Regions from separate parts of the Homo sapiens genome. Here region 2 is linked to region 1. The links come from fine-mapping of genetic effects on gene expression. A gene starts in region 1. The other region holds a variant in brackets. All regions are shown on one strand. Distances are from middle to middle.

Region 1 (5,376 bases):
CCAGCTCCTCAGAAGGCTGAGGCAGGAGAATCACTGGAACCTGGGAGGCAGAGGTTGCAGTGAGCTGGGATCCTGCCACTGCACTCCAGCCTGGGTGACAGAGCAGAGACTCTGTCTCAAAAAAAAAAAAAAAAAAAAAAAAAGTTAGCTCCAGCCATACAGACAGTGAGCGGTCCATCTTGGCAGCTTTTGCTGTGGAGGATGGGGCACAGGGACATGCTCTGTAGAGCATGCTCTGTAAAGGGCACTATCTTCTTTTTTTTTTTTTTTTTTTTTTGAGATATCGAGTTTCGCTCTTGTTGCCCAGGCTGGAGTGCAGTGGCGCGATCTCAGCTCACTGCAACCTCCCCCTTCCAGTTTCAAGCGATTCTCCTGCCTCAGCCTCCCAAGCAGCCATGAGAACCACCCTGTTACAGAAGTCTATGATCTGCTTTAAGTTAAATTTTGTGTATCTTGTGAGATGAGGATCATAGGGTGGAACAGCTGCCCTTAGATCAGGGTGTCCAATCTTTTGGCTTCCCCAGGCCACAGTGGAAGAATTGTCTTGGGTCACATATAAAAAAACACTAATATTAATGATAGCTGATGAGCTAAAAAAAAAAAAAAAATCACAAAAAAAAAATCTCATAATGGGCCAAGCATGGTGATTCATGCCTGTAATCCCAGCACTTTGGGAGGAAGGGGCAGGTGGATCACGAGATCAGGAGTTCGAGACCAGCCTGGCCAATATGGTGAAACCCCGTCTCTACTAAAAATACAAAAATTAGCCAGGCATGGTGGCACAAGCCTGTAATCCCAGAGGTTGCAGTGAGCTGAGATCGTGCCATTGTACTCCATCCTGGGCAACAAGAGCGAAACTCCATCTCAGGGAAAAAAAAAAAAGTGAAAAGACTACAAAATGGAAGAAAATATTTGCAAGTCATTTATCAGATAAGGGACTTATACAGAATAAACAAAATAATGGCCAGGCAGGGTTGCTTATGCCGGTAATCCCAGCACTTTGGGAGGCTGAGGCAGGTGGATTGCTTGAGCCCAGAAGTTCCAGACCAGCCTGGGCAACATAGTGAGACCTCGTCTCTACAAAAAAATACAAAAATCAGCCGAGTGGTGGCGCATTCCTGCAGTCCCAGCTATTTGGGAGGCAGAGGCAGGAGGATCAATTCAGCCAGGGAGGTTGAGGCTACAGTGAGCCGTGATCGTGCCACTGCACTGCAGCCTGGGCACAGCGGAAGACCCTGTCTCAAAAAATAAAAATAACTCTTACCACAGTATTCAAGAGACAAACTGCTCAATTAAAAACCGGGCAAAGGGTCTGAATAGGCATTTCTCTAAAGAAGATATACAAATGACCAATAAACATATGAAAGGATATTCAACATCATTAATCATTAGGGAAATACAAGTCAAAACCTGGAGATCCCACTTTACTTACACCCACTAGAATGTCTATAAACAAAAAGACAATGACAAGTACTGTCCAGGATCTGGAGAAACTGGAACTCTCATTTATAAATAACCCCGGGAAGGCCTGTTTTCCCATGAGTAGAACAGACTCTGAACGCCCCTCCCACTTTTGACCCTAATGGACCCTGAAGGACCACACGCATTCCGGCGTGCCCTGGGGTTCCTCTAGGAGGGGAGGGGAGAAGCGTCGCGAGACCTGAGAAATTGTCTTTGGGCAAGTCGTGCTAGGGCTCTCACGGCTCTCATCGTGCCTCCGCGGCCCGGTTTCCGGCCACTAGTAGCCTGGAGAAGGGCTTACCCAAGGCACAGGCCATGGCAGCGCCCACCAGGCCTCCACCCGACACCACCACGTCATACACGGTGTCTGTTGAGGCGCCGGACCACCTGCGCCAGGACACCAGCGGGCCGCTGTGGGGAGCTGCACGCACAGCCCCGCATCGGCTGACAAGCCGGGCCGCCATGGTGCAGACCTGCGCCGTCGCACTCAGAACTCCCGCAGGCCCACCTACGTAGTGCGTCCGGAGCAGAGCACTCCAATCCCGTCCCGCTTCCGCGGCGTCCTCAGAACCGGAAATAAAATGCGCGGAGAAAATAGGCCAATCGGAAAACGAACCTTGCCTCCTCGGGCGGGATGGATCGGAGGCTGCCCTGGAAGCCAACCAGACGCCAAAGCTAGAAAGGGGTGGACCCTGGCCCCGCATAGCTCTCGCTGCCACCGCTGCTGCCACTATCGCTGTCACTGTCGCTGCTGCCTCTGTCCAGCTGAAATGACCGTGGGGAGGCCTGAGGGAGCCCCCGGAGGCGCGGAGGGGAGCCGTCAGGTGAGGAGAGAAAAGAGACTGCCCCCGGGAAAGGAATCCCGGAGAGGAAACTGTTGGGCGTTGCCTTGGAGACAGACAGCAGGGGCGTGTCACGGAGGGGCGTGGGATTAAAATGAGCGTTTAGGGACCAGGAGGCGGACTCTGACTTACAGACCTGAACCTCTCGGACTTTATACGAGGCTCTTGATAGGCAATGTCACTCAGTTTTCGCTTATCCTCTTAGTACTCTATGACCAGTAGTACAATTGTCGTCTCATTTTTGTAGAAGAGAAAACTGAGGCACAAAGAGATTAAGAAAATTGCTCCCCAAATTTGGCCGGGCGTGGTGGTTCACGCCTGTAATCCTAGCACTTTGGGAGGCCGAGGCGGGTGGATCACCTGAGGTCAGGAGTTCGAGACCAGCCTGGCCAACATGGTGAAACTCCGTCTAAAAATTTAAAAAAAAAAAAAAAATTGGCCAGGCGCGCTGGCTCACGCCTGTAATCCCAGCACTTTGGGAGGCCAAGGAAAGCGGATCATGAGGTCAAGAGATCGAGACCAGGCTGGTTTCCATGGCAAAACCCCGTCTCTACTAAAAATACAAAAATTGGCCGGGTGCGGTGGCTTACTCCTGTAATGCAGCACTTTGGGACCTGAGGTCAGGAGTTCAAGACCAGCCTGACCAACATGGAGAAACCCTGTCTCTACTAAAAAAAATACAAAATTAGCTGGACGTGGTGGCACATGCCTGTAATCCCAGCTACTCGGGAGGCTGAGGCAAGAGAATTGCTTGAACCTGGGAGGTGGAGGTTGCAGTGAGCCGAGATTGTGCCATTGCACTCCAGCCTGGGCAACAAGAGCAAAACTCTCTCAAAAACAAAAACAAACAAACAAAAAAATACAAAAAATTATCTGGGCATGGTGGTGCGCGCCTGTAGTCCTAGCTACTCGGGAGGCTGAGGCAGGAGAATCACTTGAACCCGGGAGGTGGAGGTTGCAGTGAGCCAAGATTGCACCACTGCACTCTAGCCTGGCGACAGAGCGAGACTCCGTCTCAAAAAAAAAAAAAAATTAGCCAGGTGTGGTGGCGCGTGCCTCCAGTGATCCACCAGCCAAGGCCTCCCAAAGTGCTGGGATTACAGGCGTGAGCCAGTGCACCTGGTGGACCCCAAACTATTAAAGGCAAAAAGTAGATTGGCAGTTGCTTAGGGCTGGTGGGGTGGGGTGTGGAGGGTTAGGGGAAATAGGGAGTGACCACTAAAGCGTGTGGCATTTCTTTTAAGGGCGATGAAGGTGTTCTAAAATTGTGATGGTAGTTGCACAACTCTGTGTATATACTAAAACCACTGAATTGTACACTTTAAATGAGTGAATATATTGTATAGAAATTATGTCTTAATAAAGTTGTCTTTAAAAGAAAAGAAAAAACGTGCCCAAGATCACACACTGTAGCAGAGCCAGGGCTAGGGTGCATACATATCTCTGACTCTTACCCTGGATTTTAGTAAGCCTGGCTCCTCATCAATCAAGTGTCAATTCAAAATTCCTCCACAATGAAAAATAAAAATCAGCCCAGGACTGAGAAAGTATAACTCAGACTGTCATAGGCATAGATAATGCCAACGGCAAGAGCATCAGGAAACAGTGTTTCTCTCAGGGCCATAACATAGGTGCAAAATTACTAACACCCCTTCTTCCAAAAGGCTTACTGATCAATTACTTACCCACCCTACTTTATTCTTCTCACCTTTTGAATAAGTATTGCCGTTGGGCGGGGCCCAATGGCTCACGCCTGTAATCCCAGCACTTTGGGAGGCCAAGGCAGGCGGATCATTTGAGCTCAGGAGTTGGAGACCAGCCTGGGAAGCATGGTGAAACCCCATCTGTACAAAAAATACAAAAACTAGCCAGGTGTGATGGTGTGTGCTGTAGTCCCAGCTACTCGGGAGGCTGAGGTGGGAGGATCATCACCTGAGCTCAGGAGGTTCAGGCTGCAGTGAGGCATGATTGCACCACTGCACTCCAGAACCTGGGTGACAGAGCAAGAACCTGTCTCAAAAAAAAAAAATTGCTCAGTCATTCGCTTAACTAAATTGTCCCCACTTCATGACAGCACCATTCCAGAGTTGATACCTGGTTCCCTGAATCAATCAGGGAAGCCAACCCTATAAAAATCACACCCTCAACCCTAAGTTCCCTGTGGTTTTCCGTAGTGTCCTGCAGCAAGTTAATAAGCCTAACTGATGTACTGATTACAAGTACATTCCTAATAACCTTAATCTGATGGACTTTATCAACCAAAAAGCTTTCCATAGGCACTCCATCTTTTTATAACCTCACAGTTGTTTATGGTTTTCACAGAATTTATCATCATCTTATATTGTCTGTCTCCTCTTACTACAGTGTAAGCTTCATGAGAGTAAGGACCTTGTTTGTCTTGTTCTCAGCCAAATGCCCAGTGCACATCAGGCACCCAGTAAATATTTTATGAATGAATGGAGTACTGAAAAAGTTAATTGTGTGTCCCACTTCTTAAGACATTGCTCTTCCAGCCAGACCATACTGTCTGTCTTGTTAATCATCCATTCCTTTTTTTTTTTTTTTTTTTGAGACGGAGCATCACTCTTGTTGCCCAGGCTGGAGTGCAGTGGCGCAATCTCATCTCACTGCCACCTCCGCCTCCCGGGTTCAAGCGATTCTCCTGCCTCAGCCTCCCCAGTAGCTGAGATTACAGGCACCCGCCACCACGCCCAACTAATTTTTGTATTTTTGTAGAGACGGGATTTCACCATGTTGGTCAAGCTGGTCTTGAACTCCTGACCTCAGGTGATCCACCTCCCTCGGCCTCCCAAAATGCTGGGATTACAGGCATGAGCCACTGCACCCAGCCATCATCCATTCCTTGACAGAGTGCAAATTAGCTAGAACATGAGGAAAGCAGAGGAGTAGAAATAAGGGAAGGGAGAGAAGGAAGATGAGCAAGAAGTAGGTTAAAACCCAAGTAAGGGAGAGTGTGGCCATCATCATGGGCAGGATTCCTGGAGTGCAGGGGTCAGAAAGCCTGGTGTAGGTGAGGTACTCTGTAAAAGCTTACTGCACTGTATGGCATAGG
Region 2 (5,376 bases), 320 kb before region 1:
AGGCCTAGCACTCCAGGTACCAAGCCAGCATGGTAAGCTGAATGTAGCCACCAACAGCCTCTGGCAGGGAAAGTCTTGAGGCTGACAGAATTCTCCAGGCACTGGTCCAGACAGGAGCCCAGAATGAGGAGATGGCGCTGGGACAGGTGAGTGAGCAGTGGAGTCAGAGGCCTGGCCTTTCCTCCCATGCTACCCTCCTGTGGCACCCCTGCAGGGGTCTAGGCTCCCGTGTCTGCCCTTGCCCACTTCTATACCCCAAACTCCAGCCCCACTCTAGCTGTCCTGGCAGCAGCAGACCTGGTCGTCAAACATGGGGCTAGCAAGGAGCCTCAGGCATAGGGAGCTCTCAATAAATGTCTGACCAGCCGGGCGCAGTGGCTCATGCCTGTAATTCCAGCACTTTGGGAGGCTGAGGCAGGCAAATCACCTGAGGTCGGGAGTTCGGGAGGTGGAGATTGTGGTGAGCCGAGATCTCGCCATTGCACTCCAGCCTGGGCAACAAAAGCAAAACTCCGTCTCAAAAAAAAAAAAAACAAAATGGTCTGACCGGCTCCCCCAAGGCAGGCCTAGAGAGTCTGGGGGAGGCCCTCCCCATCTAGGGACACATGGATCACCCTTGCCCTTCTGCTCAGGAGGTACCCCAGGGCCTCTCCCTGACGCCAGTCCTCCCAGCCCAGGGTGTCTTCTCACACACTGCTCACTCTGTCTGCCCACATTCTTCCTGTAATTTTTTTTTTTTTTGATACAGAGTCTCACTCTATTATTCAGGCTGGAGTGCAGTGGCATGATCTTGGCTCACTGCAACATCCACCTCCCGGGTTCATGCGATTCTCTCACCTCAGCCTCCCAAGTAGCTGGGATTACAGGCAGGCGCCACCACACCCAGCTAATTTTTGTGTTTTTAGTAGAGATGGGGTTTCGCTATGTTGGCCAGGCTGGTCTTGAACTCCTCACCTCAAGTGATCCGCTCACCTCGGCCTCCCAAAGTGCTGGGATTACAGGTGTGAGCCACTGCGCCCAGCCAGTCTGTCCACATTCTTGACATCTGTCCCTACTCGCTAGCCAAACCGCAGCTTCCAGAGAAGAGTGGGCCTGGCCCCCAGCTTTGCCAGGGGTGGTCAGGTGGGTGAGCACTTTCCATTCCTAGCATAGCCACAGAGTACACTCCTCCTACCATCTGTCTCCCCCTTCCAGTGGAAAAGATGGTGCTGTCCCAGGGGACCTGGCACCATGCCACCAAGCTCAACCACAGCCCTCTCTGCACCCCACCAGGCAGATAGAACCACCAGAGGAGTCTGGTTTCCCTTTAGTTACAGACGGGGGTGGCCATCATCACACCCCTCTAATCCTGATGTACCACGGCCAGGGAGCCACATGCAGCCAGTGGCCTCACAGGGCTATGGTTAACTCTGGACACACATCCACTATGCAGTCACGGACTAATATAGGCAGAAGCCCAGAATGCTCTCTGGCTGATAGCTCTGCCTTCTGTTACTCAGCACTCAGTTGGAAGTATGCTAAGTCATCAGCATGCTTCCACTTCACCCAGTCTCCTGGGAGGATCAAAACCAAATCCTACTGTCTATTGCAGCATCTGGCTTTAGCCTAGGTTTTCTGGAATAACTATACCCCCCACCCCCACTGTAAGTTGATTGTGTTTGAAATCTAGACTGCTACTGCTATACCCCTAGCACTTAGAAGAGTAGACAGTCTAGTGTCCATGTTGATAAATCGTTGGTTAGGGTTCTAGCACATGCTGCCTTTATTAAAAACTGTCCCAAACCCATTTACAAAAGCAGTAGCTAGTGCAAGGGTGTGTGGCTTATAGTGGGGGGCAGGCTGGACTTGAAACTAGAGAAAGCCTAATTCTTGCTTATTTCAAAGGTTCATTCCAGGGGTGTGAGTGAGGTATTAGCTACATGTGCTTGGGGACATCAAAGTACCCTGGACCCCTCCAGTCAGAGAAAAGGGGTCTGGGAAGTCTTTCATGCCAGGATATTCAAAATGCATCTGTGGCCGGGCACAGTGGCTCATGCCTGTAATCCCAGCACTTTGGGAGGCTAAGACAGGAGGATTGCTTGAGGCCAAGAGTTCAAGACTAGTCTGGGCAACATATTGAGCTACAAAAAATTTAAATATTTTTCTTTTCCTACAAAAAATTTTAAAATTAGCTGGGTGTGGTGGCACACACCTGTAGTCCCAGCTACTTGGCAGGGCTGAGGTGAGAGGATCACTTGAGCCTGGGAGGTTGAGGCTGCAGTAAGCCT[C/T]ATCCCACCACTGCACTACAGCCTGAGCAGTACAAGAGACTGTCTCAAAAAAATAGTAACATTTTAAAAAATTTAAAAAGAATAATAAAGTGCACCTGTAAGCACTATACAGTGTGTTTTCCCAACTCTGTCCCCTGAGAAGGCCTAGAAGCAACTGTACCACAATAACAGTAAGCATACCTTGTGCCTAGATTTTGGTACCTAAATACCATTCTCCACTAAAAAGCCAGACAAGAGGAACCAACAGATGTTAAAAGTAGTGGATTAAAGTTTGATGAGGAATAAGATATTTATATAGTCTCAAAGCATCATCCCACAAAATACTTGTTAATAAGTACATGATACTCATTAACTTTACAATGGAAAAACCTGCAGGTACTATCTTTTTTTGTTTTGGTTTTGGTTTTGAGACAGGGTTTCACTCCCATTGCCCAGGTTAGAGTGCAATGACACAATCTTGGCTCACTGCAACCTCCCCCTCCTGGGCTCAAGCGATTCTCCTGCCTCAGCCTCCCGAGAAGCTGGGACTACAGGCACACATCACTGCACCCAGCTAATTTTTGTATTTTTTGTAGAGACAGAGTTTTGCCATGTTGCCCAGGCTGGTCTTGAATTCTCGAGCTCAAGCCATATGCCCCTCCTTGGCCTCCCAAAGTCCTGGGATCACAGGCACATGAGCCACTGCACCTGGCTAGCAGGTACCATCTTAATCGAATGATAAACATTAACATCACCAGGAATGGAACAACATGGTGTGCTTCCTGATATGATGCACTGAGAATGGAGAACCAGTTCCATGGAATTTTCTCCAAAAATGCAGATTCAGGTATGCAACCTGAGTCTTATGAGGAAATATCAAAACCCAAATTGAGGACATTCTATAAAGTAACTGGCCAGAAATCATCAAGAACGTCAAGGTCACAGAAGGCAGTTATGGATTGGAGGAGACTACAGAGACTGGGTCACTCAATTCAGCGTGCAGTCCTGGATCAGATCACAGTTGATAAAGGACGTTTTTGGAATGATCAGGGTTCTGTGGACTAGTTGATAGTATTTAACACCCTTCTGGACAAATCAATGTCAATTTCTTGATTTTGTTAGTCGTATTTGGTTGTGTGGGAGAGTATCCTCATTTTAAGGAAATATACACAGAAGTATTAAGTGGTAATGGGGTATCATGTCCCCAACTTACTATCAAATGGTTTAGAAAAAAATGCAAAAATAGGCCAGGCAAGCGGGGGTTATGCCTGTAATCCCAGCACTTTGGGAGGCCAAGGTAGGAGGATCACTTGAGCCCAGGAGTTTGAGACCAGCCTGGGCAACATAGTGAGACCCTGTCTCTATAAAAAAATTAAAAAATATTATCTGGGCATGGTGGTGCACGTCTGTAGTCCCAGGTGCTTGGGAGGCTGAGGTGAGAGGATCACTTGAACCCAGGAGGCTGAGGCCACAGTGAGCCATGATCACACCACTGCACTCCAGGTGACAGAGGAAGACCCTATCTCAAAAAAAAAAAAAAGTAATAGTAGAGATACAGAGTGAATAATAAAATGTAGTGAACTGGATTTGTTTTTGTTTTTGTCTTGAGGCGGAGTTTCACTCTTGTTGCCCAGGCTGGAGTGCAATGGCGTGATCTTGGCTCACCACAACCTCCACCTCCTGGGTTCAAGCAATTCTCCTGCCTCAGCCTCCCGAGTAGCTGGGATTACAGGCATGCGCCACCACACCTGGCTAATTTTGCATTTTTAGTAGAGACAGGGTTTCTCCATGTTGGTCAGGCTGGTCTGGAACTCCCAACTTCAGGGGATCTGCCCGCCTTGGCCGCCCAAAGTGCTGGGATTATAGGCGTGAGCCACCACCCCCGGCTAAGAGTTTTGTGTTGTTGTTGTTGGTGTTGAGATAAGAGTCTTGCTCCGTCTCCCAGGCTGGAGTGCAGTGGCACCATCTTGGCTCCCTGCAGCCTCCACCTCCTAGGTTCCAGGGATTCTCCTACTTCAGCCTCCCGAGTAGCTGGAATTACAGGCATGCGCCACTACGCTCAACTAATTTTTTTATTTTTAATAGAGACGGGGTTTCACCACGTTGACCAGGCTGGTCTTGAACTCCTGACCTCAACTGATCCTCCTGCCTCAGCCTCACAAAGTGCTGGGATTACAGGTGTAAGCCACTGCACCCGGCAAGTATTTTTTAAAGTACTACTAAAAGAGTCCTTCCCTTTATTTCTACCTGACTCCCTGACTATCCTACCAACTGTATGGTCTATGTGCCTTTGGGAGAACTTTCATTCTTCCAGCTATCATTGCACCTAGCCTGGAACAAAAGACTGGAAGAAAATACATTTAATATTTTCGGCTGGGCGCTTGAACCTGGGAGGCAGAGGCTGCAGTGAGCCGAGATCGCGCCACTGCACTCCATCCTGGGCAACAGAGCGAGACTCTGTCTCAAACAAAAAAAAAATTTTCATTGTCTCTCTGCCTAACCACTCACTCGCTCGCTCCTCCAATGCTTACTTGACGCTTCTAAAGGCAGAGGGCAGAGATGAAGAGGAAGGTGCCAGTTACAGGAGAGACGCAGAACCATGGCCCAGGGAGGCTAAATGTTTGGTTCAGAGACCCCAGAGCGTTTACGGAAGCCTCTTGGCCAGAAGGGATTGATAAGAACCAGGCAAAACAAATCCAAAAAGATAACTGACGTCAGGACCGGGGGAAATGTCCCAACAGGGAACTGAGTGGGGCAGTGACCACCAGCCATAGGGAAGGATACCAAGAAGCCAAAGGCTTGAGTGGTAACATGTTGTTCCCATTTCACAGCCCTTTATAGTTTACAAAGGAGCTTCTAGGACAATGGTGGAGTGGGCTGGTAAACAATTCTGATTAAGAACATCTAGAGGTGAACAAAATATAACAAAAACAAGTTTCACGCATGACTGGAATAGGAAACAAGAAAGGGAATCCCAGGTATGACAGTCAGAGTCAGAAGGTTGACTAGCACTTGCATTTTATTTATTTATGAGATGGGGTCTTGCTATGTTGCCCAGGCTGGAGTACAGTGGTGCAATCATGACTTACTGCAGCTTCAACCTCCTAGGTTCAAGTGATTTTGTAATTTT

Direction of the effects. Alleles are on the strand shown, and positions count from the first base shown. SD is a standard deviation of normalised expression in the study named.
For the expression in anterior cingulate cortex of the gene that starts at base 2,164 in region 1, allele C in region 2 goes with a higher level than allele T (moderate effect, 0.64 SD a copy in GTEx).

Evidence for each region. PIP is the estimated chance that this variant, and not a neighbour inherited with it, causes the effect. A credible set is the group of variants that fine-mapping cannot tell apart.
Region 2: its variant is the best candidate, but not a certain one, in a credible set for the expression of FAM161B in anterior cingulate cortex (GTEx, PIP 0.55).

What each region holds. Positions count from the first base shown.
Region 1 is chr14:73,946,882-73,952,257 of GRCh38, reverse strand. It overlaps FAM161B (FAM161 centrosomal protein B), which reads left to right and starts at 2,164. Exons shown (of 9, transcript NM_152445.3): 1 at 2,164-2,285. The coding sequence starts at 2,232. COQ6 (coenzyme Q6, monooxygenase) reads right to left here and starts at 1,956. Exons shown (of 12, transcript NM_182476.3): 1 at 1,763-1,956. The coding sequence starts at 1,925. RefSeq lists a silencer at 1-204 and enhancers at 2,198-2,257, 1,274-2,274.
Region 2 is chr14:74,271,469-74,276,844 of GRCh38, reverse strand. No RefSeq gene overlaps it. Among named protein-coding and RNA genes, the nearest start is that of ABCD4, 29 kb to the left of the region's middle. The variant C/T (reference allele first, on the strand shown) is at 2,268.